Homo sapiens: one gene and its partners. The protein of the gene in region 3 purifies or fractionates together with the protein of the main gene of each other region. This does not show direct contact. Each region holds a gene or a part of one and is shown on either strand. Other genes may lie near its edges.

Evidence for each region.
Region 1: the proteins of AFAP1L1 (region 3) and DECR1 purify together in Homo sapiens (affinity purification with mass spectrometry; one large-scale study listed by BioGRID and IntAct). This does not show direct contact.
Region 2: the proteins of AFAP1L1 (region 3) and KDM4A purify together in Homo sapiens (affinity purification with mass spectrometry; one large-scale study listed by BioGRID and IntAct). This does not show direct contact.

Annotation. Positions count from the first base shown.
Region 1 is NC_000008.11:90,000,210-90,004,276, forward strand, and holds the start of DECR1 (2,4-dienoyl-CoA reductase [(3E)-enoyl-CoA-producing], mitochondrial isoform 1 precursor), read left to right. Parts: upstream 1-1,267; 5' UTR 1,268-1,283; coding exon 1,284-1,352; exon of another isoform or gene 1,353-4,067. UniProt on the Homo sapiens protein: Auxiliary enzyme of beta-oxidation. It participates in the metabolism of unsaturated fatty enoyl-CoA esters having double bonds in both even- and odd-numbered positions in mitochondria.
Region 2 is NC_000001.11:43,691,649-43,695,148, forward strand, and holds part of KDM4A (lysine-specific demethylase 4A), read left to right. Parts: intron 1-607; coding exon 608-663; intron 664-2,345; coding exon 2,346-2,454; intron 2,455-3,060; coding exon 3,061-3,246; intron 3,247-3,500. UniProt on the Homo sapiens protein: Histone demethylase that specifically demethylates 'Lys-9' and 'Lys-36' residues of histone H3, thereby playing a central role in histone code. Does not demethylate histone H3 'Lys-4', H3 'Lys-27' nor H4 'Lys-20'.
Region 3 is NC_000005.10:149,313,359-149,316,858, forward strand, and holds part of AFAP1L1 (actin filament-associated protein 1-like 1), read left to right. Parts: intron 1-2,462; coding exon 2,463-2,556; intron 2,557-2,792; coding exon 2,793-2,945; intron 2,946-3,500. UniProt on the Homo sapiens protein: May be involved in podosome and invadosome formation.

The sequences.
Region 1 (4,067 bases), on a different chromosome or scaffold from region 3:
CATTGAGGGTGGGCCTTAATCCAACACGACTGGTGTCCTCATAAGAAGAGGCAATTTAGATATGGAAAGGTACACAGGAGGATCATGTAAAGACACAGGGAGAAGATGGTCCCACAGTGGCTCCACAAGAAACCAACTCTGCTGACTTGTGGCCTCCAGAATTGTGAGAAAACAAATTTCCATTTAAGCCACCCAATCTGTGGTAGTTTTGTTCCTGGACCAAACTGAGGGTCAGGCTGCTATTTCTTGCTGCCAATAATGAGATGTCGATGAACTGGGGATGAAGAAAGTTTTTATTTCTGTAACCAGTTACAGGCAGAAGGCCTGGAAATTATCACCAGACCAACTCAAAATTACAAAGTTTTTCAGAGTTTATATACCTTATAAGCTATATGTCTACATGTAAGTGTACATTCCTCTGAAGATATAAATGTTTCTTTATCAGCATTTGGAACATGCCAGGCAAATAGTAAACACTCAATATCATCTACCATCAGCCTCAGCCTGGGGCCTCACACCCATCTTCTTTTATCTAAAATTCTGAATTAGCTATGAATATTCTCATTTTACGAATGAGGAAAGAAATGTGATCTGAGCTAATGCCTTGTGTCAACAGGTATATTACACTAAGATGGAGAATGATATACTGAATCTGTGTTTGCCTTTAACGTGTGTTTAACTTCGAGAAAAAAGCCAAGGCTGGGCGGTCGCAGTCACGCTGCATCCGGCGACAGGGGGCGGTGTGTCCTGCGAAAAGTCAAAACGCCGGAAGCTGCCCTTAGTGTTTTTCAGCCTCTTGGTCTTAGGGAAAGTGAGGCCGTGTTTTACATCCAACATATTATTATTCTGATAATATGTGACTTGGCGCCACGCGCACTCTGCACTTAAACACGCACTTAAGGGATAAACACATACGACTGAAAAAGAGTTTCGCCCTTGATAGGCAGTGTATGGGGTGCGCAGCTGCAATCTGCAAACCCTTGCAGGGCGCGGGGTTTCGTACACCCGCTCAAGGACGCAAAGAACCTCCATTCTCTGCCATACAAAGCACTCCTGGCCCAGAGAGCAGGAAAGAGCATCAGCTAGGCCCAGCTAGGCGGCGCCCTCGGCCGGACTCTGAAGGTCAGGGCCGCTGGGCGTCCACGCCGCCTGGGTCCCAGTCCCCGTCCCATCCCCCGGCGGCCTAGGCAGCGTTTCCAGCCCCGAGAACTTTGTTCTTTTTGTCCCGCCCCCTGCGCCCAACCGCCTGCGCCGCCTTCCGGCCCGAGTTCTGGAGACTCAACATGAAGCTACCGGCCAGGGTTTTCTTTACTCTGGGGTCCCGGCTGCCCTGTGGCCTCGCTCCTCGGAGGGTAAGGCGGCCGGGGGCGCGGGGAGCGAGGACAGGGCGTCTCGACGCGCAAAGAGAGAGGACAGGGCGTCACGGGGGCTCGGGGAGCGAGGACAAGGCATCCTGGGGCGCAAAGAGAGAGGACAGGGCGTCCCGGGGGTTCGGGGAGCGAGGACAGGGCATCCCGAGGCGCAGAGAGAGAGAGGACAGGGCGTCCCGGGGCCTCGGGGAGCGAGGACAGGGTGTCCCGGGGCTCAAAGAGAGAGGACAGGGCGTTCTGGAGCGCTAAGAGAGCACAGAGCAACCCGGGGAGCGAGAGAGAGGACAGGACGTCTCGGGGCGCAAGAGAAAGGGCAGGAAGTCTTGGGGCACAAAGAGAGGACCCGGCGTCCCTGGGGCTCAGGGAGCTAGGACAGGGCGTTTTGGGGCGCAGAGAGAGAGGACCACCAGGTCCCGGAGCGAAGGGCAACGCCGGGAGTGAGCACCGGGGCCCGGGTCGTATTCCACTGTCAGATGAAGCCCTGATGTGTGTAGGGGAATAGGGAAGAGACGTGATTTTCGAAGTTTTCACAGTTCTGCAAGTTTCCAACTTGTGTGTAAATAGGTAGAAAGAGGTAGGGAAGGATACGGCGCCCGTCCACCCCTTAAGGAGTGAGAGGGGATCAGGCCGAGCGAGCACTGACCTTTGACGTCCTTTGTTGTGAGGAAAGTCCATCTATGTGTTAGTTATGGAATTAAACACTAATACAAACAAATTATCATAAAAATGAAACAAAAACAAAACCCCAGCTGTTTATAGACTCCCCTTCCCAGATGTATAGCTGGGAGAGGTCCGTCTCACACTGGCTTCCCCCTCTCTCTGGCCCACACTCCTGTCACCATCTCCATTGCACCCATAGTGGAAATAGCTAGGAAGTGAAAACAGCTAGGAAGAAGAAAGAGAAACAAAAACAAAAAGAAGCAATAATATCCAAGACAAGCCCTCCCCACATCTAAATTACAAAATTGTTATAAGTAAACTAAAAAGCACATTTTCTTTAGCCAGGTAGAAAAATTAATATGTCAACTGTGAAAAAACTTCTTTTGATTTGATAGAATAGACAGCCATGGTGTTGTTTTTCAAAAAATATGGGCAGCAGTAGTTCCAAATAGGAATACAAAGAATTAGTATGGTGGTTCCCTCAAGTAAGGTATCTTTCTTTTAAAAAGTGAGATTTGTTCAGGGTTAGGGTTTTGCTGATTTTTTTTCTCTCCCTGTGAAAACTGGGTTATAGATCATTATAAAGGAAGCCCATATTTTCTGATACTTTTCAGAGACATTTCTCATTTGAAATCTACAACAGCTCTGTGATGTCTTCAGAGATTTCATTTTTTAACACACATCATTAGGATTGTAGCAATAAGGTCATACAGACCTTATCCAAGCTCTTCTGACACCATTAGACAATACAGTTTGAGAAGGAGAAAATGAACTCATTTAAAAATTAATTGTAATCTGACAATTTTGAAATTCCTTTGCTGAAGAAAAATATGGAAGTTTTGAGGTTCAGGGTTGGGAGGCAAGAGAGGTACCTGTTAGTGTGGTTTGTCCCCTTCCTAGCACATGTAGCCTCAAGTTTGAATTCCTGGGAGAAGAAAAGTCTTTACATCTGTGATGTGGGAGGTTGTTCCAGGGAACATCATGTTTTTGTGGGCAAATACAAGTTGTTATAATTAAAACCCCTAATTTGAATATTTTTGTTACCAAGAACCAAGGCAAATGTTTAATTTGTTATAAAACCTGTTTGTGAAGTGCTGTGTTAAATTGTGCTGCTGGCTAATAGGCCTCATTTCAATTTAATAAATATTTATTGAGGACTGGCTTTATGTCTGGCCCTGTGCTATGCCCTGGGACTCAAAATTTAAAAAATACGAGCCCTGCTCTCAACTGTTCTCAAGTTGCTCTCAGTTCTATTGAGGAAAACATTCAGTCATTCAGTTGTTTATGAGGAAACACTAATTAATTAAGTACCTATTAAGTATTGGGCATTCTTTGGCAATTTGTGGTTGAAAGACATTCCTGCCTTCAATGTACTATAGTCTCATATATGTATTTTAAGCCACAAATAATAACCAATGAGTAGGCCTTGAAATCAATTTAGTGGAGCAAAACAGCACTTTGGGAGGCTGAGGCGGGTGGATCATTAGATCAAGAGATCAAGACTATCCTGGCCAACATGGTGAAACCCTGTCTCTAGTAAAAATACAAAAATTACTGGGTGTGGTTTCACACGCCTGTAGTCCCAGCTACTTGGGAGGCTGAGGCAGGAGAATCGCTTTAACCTGGGAGGCAGAGGTTGCAGTGAGCTGAGGTCGCGCCACTGTAGTCCAACCTGGCGATAGAGTGAGTGAGACTCCATCTCAAAAACAAAAAAATGGAATAGAATAGGATATATCTAAATTCATCTCATGTAGTAAGGTTGTTCATTTTGTGAAACTTTAAAAAAAAAATTTACCATTCTTCCTTTTTTGATTCATTCTTTGATTACTATCATGCACACTGCCATGTTTCTTTTCCTTTTGTTTTTATCAAGAGTAATAACTATCCAACCTGATCAACATGGTGAAACCCTGTCTCTACTGAAAATATAAAAATTAGCCGGGCGTGGTGGCGCGTGCCTGTAATCCCAGCTACTCAGGAGGCTGAGGCAGGAGCTACTCAGGAGGCTGAGGCAGGAGAATCACTTGAACCTAGGAG
Region 2 (3,500 bases), on a different chromosome or scaffold from region 3:
CTCAGTATTCCCAGCAGTCTGCATAGGGTCTGGTACGCGGTGATGTCAGAGAGCGAGTATTGTGAGAGTAAATCCTATGACCGTGAGAATGGTTGCTGCCCACTTACGGAGTCTGGATGCTGTGTTTGCTCCATTGTGGAAAGACCAACTAGTGGTCTTCCTGTGGAGGAACAATAACTCCCTTAAAAGAATTTAGCCATTTTGAATTGGAGCCTCAGAAAGGGGCTCAGATGATTCATTGTGCTGTTTTCTCTTCACTGTACCCCCTGGAACCTGGCTGTACCTAGCCCATATAAGAAGCAGTCAGAGCCCTGTCATGCCTCTAGTTTGAGCAAAGTATCTTTTGTGACTTTGCTAAGAGTTGTTATTAGCAGCAACAATGAAGAGGATTATGTGAAGTCACGTGACTACTTGGCACACTTTAGCCCTGAGTGGCCTCTCCTTCTGACAGGGCGTCCTGGTGCAGGGGCTGCCTGGGTGAAGCCCCACATGCTATTATGCTTCTTTCTTATGTGGAGGAGTTGCCCAAAGCAGGTCCAGGGGAGAGCAGATTGAATGTTAATGACTTGGTATTAACCACTTTTTCCTCCCTCTCCTTTCTTGGCAGGACTGCTGTTTATGCTCATTACGAGGAGGGGCCCTGCAGAGAGCAAATGATGACAGGTAAGTTTCCTGAGCAGTGCCTTGGAATGCACAGGCTCAGTTCCGAAGCACACAGTGTCTTTGTGAGGGTACTAGCTGTTCTTCTGAATGACTGATGAGGATTTGGGAAGCACATCGTGTGGAGCAGGAATAGCATCTCCAAGACTCATTTTAAAAATGGAATGCTAAGGGAGCCAAGCAGTCCCAGACTTTCCAACTCCAGCTGCTCCTCTGCAGCAGAGATGTCAGTGACATCCTCCTTTGGAGAAGCTAAGAATGGACTCATGAGAATATGAAGACGAAGATGATGCGCAGGGACTGTGTGGGCTGGAGTGAGGACATTCACCTTGTCACAGCTGGGGCTGGTATGCAGAGGCGGCCACAGGCTAGCAAGCACTTCTCCACATGGCAAACTCCCTGGCTCAGACCTGCTGTTTGGAATGAGGCGAGTGTGCTCAAGGAGGACACTGAGGAGAGCTCAGACAGGCCCACCCACTATGGAACCGAATCTGCTGAATTTTCTGGGCTTCTCAGCTGTTGGGCAGCTCGTTTTCATGGAGTGAATCTTTGTGCTTAGGCTTGTGTTTGGTTGCTCTGAGGTGGAAACGTAAGATGAATGAGGTTTCTGACCTGGAAGAGCTAGCTGTCTAGGGCATGGTGCGTGCAGGTCAGTGCTGAGTATCCTGCTTCCAAGTAGAATCCCGTGGCAACTTGCAGCATATGTTCAGTCCAGCCGCCTGCCCTCAAGAGTCCCAGTTATGCTGTCCCTGAGAGATAGCTACTCTGCCTGCTGCTTCTGCTCCTTCAAAGGCACTTGCTGCCATTATTTGAGGTCACTGGGTTCCTCACAGTCACAGGATAGTGCTGGGAACATTCTTTCTTATTTGGAGTGGAAATGGCTGTGCTTGAATCTCTCACCTTTACCTCTGAATGCCTGTTCTGCCCTCCAGGGCCACACAGAACAAATCTGTTCCCACTCTAAAAAGACAGCCCCACTAGAACTGCAGAGAGCTTCCATGGAGCCCCAGTGTTGTCTGGTGTAGGTTTTCACGTAGCATGGTTTTAAGAGTTGTCACCATTTTCGTTCTTCTCCTCTTGATGCATGCTGGTTTCCCAAAATGTCCAAAACTTACTTTAATTCTTAAGGATGTCCGTTGAATAGACCTCTCAGAGTAAGTGGGGCTTGGGTCAGACCTTAAAGATTAAAGAGTGAGTCAGCTATGGAAAAAGGGAGCAGAAGGGAGAGGTCATTTCAGCCTGGGGGAGAGGTTTGGGCAGAGGCCGAGAGAGAGCTGTGATTACTGGCAGATTAGGGCACAGCCGGGGACGTTTTCAGGAAGCACTTGGGTCCTATGGTAAAGAGGTCTGCATAGAGCTTTCCAGTTTATTCTCACTCCCTGAGACCTGCCACACACCATTAGCCTGCAGCTCTGTTCATTTTTCAACAGAGTGGTGTAAGAAGCATGATCCGGTGCTAACCTAGGGCAGTGGGCAGTGGCCTAGGTGGGCAGTGGGGGTGGCACTGCTTCCACATACTCAGAGGAGAGACGGTTCTGGTTCTCACCTTCCTGGGTCCCAGGCATGTGCTGGTGGAAGTCAGTGGTCACCCAGGTGAGGGAGGAAGCGCTGTCAGCAGGCCCAAAAGAGAAGGCCACAGAGCCTTGGGCCCAGAGGTGACTGAGGGAGCCTTTGCCTTTTGGCAGGTGGGTCCACGTTTCATGTGCTGTGGCAATTCTGGAAGCAAGGTTTGTCAACATTGCAGAAAGAAGTCCGGTGGATGTGAGCAAAATCCCCCTGCCCCGCTTCAAACTGGTAAGGGCTTGTAGACTCTACATAATTTCCCGACTTACAAGTTTCTGGGTAGAAGAGAACAGGGACCTCCTGTACCCCTTGGTTTTGGTTAGAGTTTGTGATTCTCACTCTGTGGTTAGATTCCTTAGTGGAGGCCAGGTGTGGTGGCTCACACCTGTAATCCCAGCCCTTTGTGGGGCCGAGGTGGGTGAACCACTTGAGGTCAGGAGTTCAAGACCAGCCTGGGCAACATGGTGAAACCCCGACTCTACTAAAAATATAAAATTAGCTGGGAGTGGTGGTGCGCACCTATAATCCCAGCTCCTCGGGAATCTGAGGCAGGAGAATCACTTGAACCCGGGAGGCGGAGGTTGCAGTGAGCCGATATTGTGTCACTGCACTCCAGCCTGGGTGACAGAGCAAGACTCCGTCTCAAAAAAAAAAAAAAAAAAATTTCCTTGGCAGATAAAGTTGTAACCAGACCTGGATTAGAGCAGGCTGGTGTGTCCTTGTATTTTGGGAAGGGGCTGGCTCTTGCTTGCTTGGCTTTGCATTTGGGAGGGGAACAACAGAGGAAGCTGCAGTGCCAGTTCCTGCAATCACTGGTTTTCTTCCCCTGTGCTACAGAAATGTATCTTCTGTAAGAAGCGGAGGAAAAGAACTGCTGGCTGCTGTGTGCAGTGTTCTCACGGCCGCTGCCCAACTGCCTTCCATGTGAGCTGCGCCCAGGCTGCCGGTGTGATGATGCAGCCTGACGACTGGCCTTTTGTGGTCTTCATTACCTGCTTTCGGCACAAGATTCCTAATTTGGAGGTGAGAGAGGGTGTCATTCTAGAATCCTCTTGACAGTTTTCATGGTCATTTTCTCTGCATGTTTTCCATTTGTTGTATCAGCAACTATTTCCTCAAGCATTCTGCATTATGAAGAGTGCTAATGAGTTAAGAGATTGAGAGGTGGCCCCTGTCCATCTCCACTCCCTGCCTTGTACTCCATAAGCCAGTGACACCAAACTGCTTGTAGTTGATTCGTTTTGATTATCTCTTTACTTGTCTGCCTCTCCATCAGA
Region 3 (3,500 bases):
AGACTGTGACTGCATGCCCTGCAGTGTACTAAATGCTTTATGTGTATTAACTGAGGTGATTTTCATAACAACTCTTTGGGTAGGTACATTTTCAGAGGAGAAAGCTGAGACACAGATTTGCCCAAGGTCACATAGTAAATAAGAACCGTAGCCAGGATTTGAACCCAGACAGTCTAGTTCTTGATGACCATGCTGCCCCTCCTCTCAAGGCCAGGATCCTGAGCACCTGCTTGACACATATCCGGGGCACCCCAGGAACTGTGCTAGCCACTGAAATGCAGTCCAAACACAAACAGGTGCAAGCCCTGCCCTCACAGCATTTCCAGCTCAGTAAGAAGCAGACATGAATCAAATAGTCACACGGACTTATAAATGCCAAGCTGTGTAAGTGCTAGAAGGGAAAAGTACCAGGTACCCTGGGCCCCTGCCTCTGCCTCAGCACCCCAGGAAGGCTTCTCTGAGGAAGTGACATTTCAGATGAAGATGAAAAATTAGCAGGGAAGAGGAAGGAAAAGGCATTGTAAGCAGAGGGAAAAGGTGCAGGAGCAGGAAGAAGCATGGAACTGAAAACGGCCAGTATGGCTAAGCTCAGAGAGAAAGGAGAGCCCACCAGCCTATTAGAGTATCCCAGAAAGCTACAGTGAGTGGAACAGGGGCCCACGCTGGCTGGAGGGGCAAGAAGGATGAGGGAAGACGGGCACCTATGTTGAGCCTTAAGGCATAGGCAAGATTTCACTGAGGCAGAGGTGGGCCAAGGGGAGGGAACAGAAGCAAAGGTATGGGATGAGGCAGAGTCACCAGGAGTGGAAGATGGGTACTCATGTGCCCAGGTGGATGCAGGAGGAGAAGCTCAACCCTATCCTCACTTAGCCTTTGCCATTGGTGAGGCCGGAGGGAAAGCAGCGTTGACAGTGTCAGTGTGTGTGAGTGTGTGTGTGTGCACGCACTTGCCAGCACATGCTGAGGTGCAGTTTGAAAGATGTGTAGAGGGGAAGAAGAAGCAAGCTTGCAGAGTTGAGCTTTCCTGTGGCTGAGCATCCACAGGGAGGGTAACTAGAATGTTGGGGGTGGTATTTTGGGTGGAGAGTGAGGGTGAGGATGTGATATTGGTGGGTCTGTTCTCCATAGAATCATGTGATTGCAGTGTCACCATCGAGTTCTTTCCAAAGTGCTCATATTACCTCTTTGTATTTGCTCTATCTGATGAAAAACTTACCATCTGTACACCATTGCAGAACACATAGAGCCATAACTTCTGTTTCACCATTTGAAGAGGTGATTCTTTATTCTTGACAGTTCTGTCCCCTTTCTGACAGCTGTCATGTTTCCAGCCCTTTGGAAACTGAGAGGTGCACATGATCTCCTGTCCTCTCCGTCCCCCGGTGCTATGCTTATGGTGAAGCATAAGCTGAGCCTGGTTTGAGAGGATCTTGGCAGGAAAGGCTTTGGGGCCTCAGAGCTCTGTAATTCCACCTTCTTAAGTGGGTGGATGTCATTTAATCCTGGCCCAAGTGTGGCTGGCACAGTTCAGCTTCTTGAAGAAAGATGGCAGCACATCACACAGGTGTTAGAAATGATACAGTCCATGGGCCTTCACTTGAGCTGGCTCCGTCACAGCAGCCCTCTGAAGTGGGTGGAATTCAAGTGAAAAAACCCAGCCTTGGGGAGACAGAAGGACTTTCCCACATTCCCACAGCTAATAAGTGGTAAGAGAGTCATCATTGCTTCCACTCTACATCCCGTGGTACCTAATAGACACTTAATGGACCTTGTATGAATGAATCGATGAATGGTCTAGAGTTGGTGTCATGAGTAAAACTAATTTGGGCTGGCAATGAAATTGTTGACATGTTGTGTGTGGGTGTGTGGGTGTGTGTCCCCTTCCCATCCTCTCCTCCGAGTTAGGATCATAATGGACTCCTGCTGGTCACCAGGTCCCGCCATGACTGTTTTGAAAATGTCTGCCAGCTCATCTCTTTTTCTCCATCCTCACTGTCATCTTGGTTCATGCTCTTGTCGAGTCTCATCATGACCAGGATGACATTCTTTTAAGTGGCTCTTCTGCTTCCAGTCTTGTCTGCTTTTGTCTGTCCCCACAATGCCACTGGAAGTAACTTCCTAAACCAATTTGGATTACATGAGTGTTCCACTTAAATACTTTCCCAGCTCCCTGTCACCTGCCAAATACAGTCCAAATTCCTAAGACATTCATTTCAAAGTGTTATAATTAATTGCCTCCCTCCCCAAATGGACTGTGAATTGCCCAAAGACACAACCATATCTAAGTCATGGTTGTCTTTTCAATACCTGGTATGGTATGAGGCACAGGATAGTTGCTGACAAACATTTGTTAGCTAATTATCATGTGCTGGGGGAGTTGGAGGGAGATTGAACCAATAAAGGGAAATTTGGGTACTTCTGAATGTGCCCTCTGATGAGGGACTGCCTGTGTCCCTCCTCAGAGGCTGTCCCAAGAGAAGCAGACCTCAGATTCTGACAGCGTGGGTGTGGGTGACAACTGTTCTACCCTTGGCCGCCGGGAGACCTGTGATCACGGTAGGAGCCTCTGGGGGCTCAGGCTGGGGAATGCTGGAACTGGGCCGGGCCTTGCCCATGGGCACACAGCGGCAGAGCAGGTTCTGACCATTCTGTAGACCTGGGTAAGGTGACCTGGCCTGCCATCCCTGGAGCTGCAGGCCCATCCTGTATGCAGGCTGAAAAGGCCACAAGGAAGACTAAGGATGGGTGGGACTCAGGGCTCCCTCCACTCCCCTGACCCATTTCCCCAACAGGCAAAGGGAAGAAGAGCAGCCTGGCAGAACTGAAGGGCTCAATGAGCAGGGCTGCGGGCCGCAAGATCACCCGTATCATTGGCTTCTCCAAGAAGAAGACACTGGCCGATGACCTGCAGACGTCCTCCACCGAGGAGGAGGTTCCCTGCTGTGGTGGGTCCAGGGCACGGGGAGGAAGGGTGCTCAGGTCCTGTGTGCGCGGGCTTTGGGGGCTGAGGCCAGGAGACCTCATGCCTCGTCCACCTCACCCCCAGGGCAGGGGAGGGAATCCAAGCCTACTGGGAGGCTAAGCCCCACTCCATTAACACTCTAGGCCTTCCCATCACTTTCCTTCCCAGAGGCCCTGACACTCAACGAAAGGAAAAGCCAGCTGACCACTGTATTTCTATGCTCCCTGTGACCGTAGCCCAAATCACTGCCCATCCCTGGGCCTCAGTTTCTCAGTTTCCTCCACGATAACAAGACAGGGGTATCTTATTTTCCAGCATAGAACGTGCCAGGTTTATAAGTAACAACCCATATTATAGGGAAATTTATTGGAGAAAAATATTTAGGTACTTTTTATTAAAAATGCATTCAATGTGAATTAAAGGTGATTTGAAGGTGAAAACATTATTTTGCTCATGTAAATGTAGCGTTCCATGTACTGGAATCCAGTTTTTAAAAATCGTATATTTTGGATATGCAGTAATATTCTAACCCTGAAAA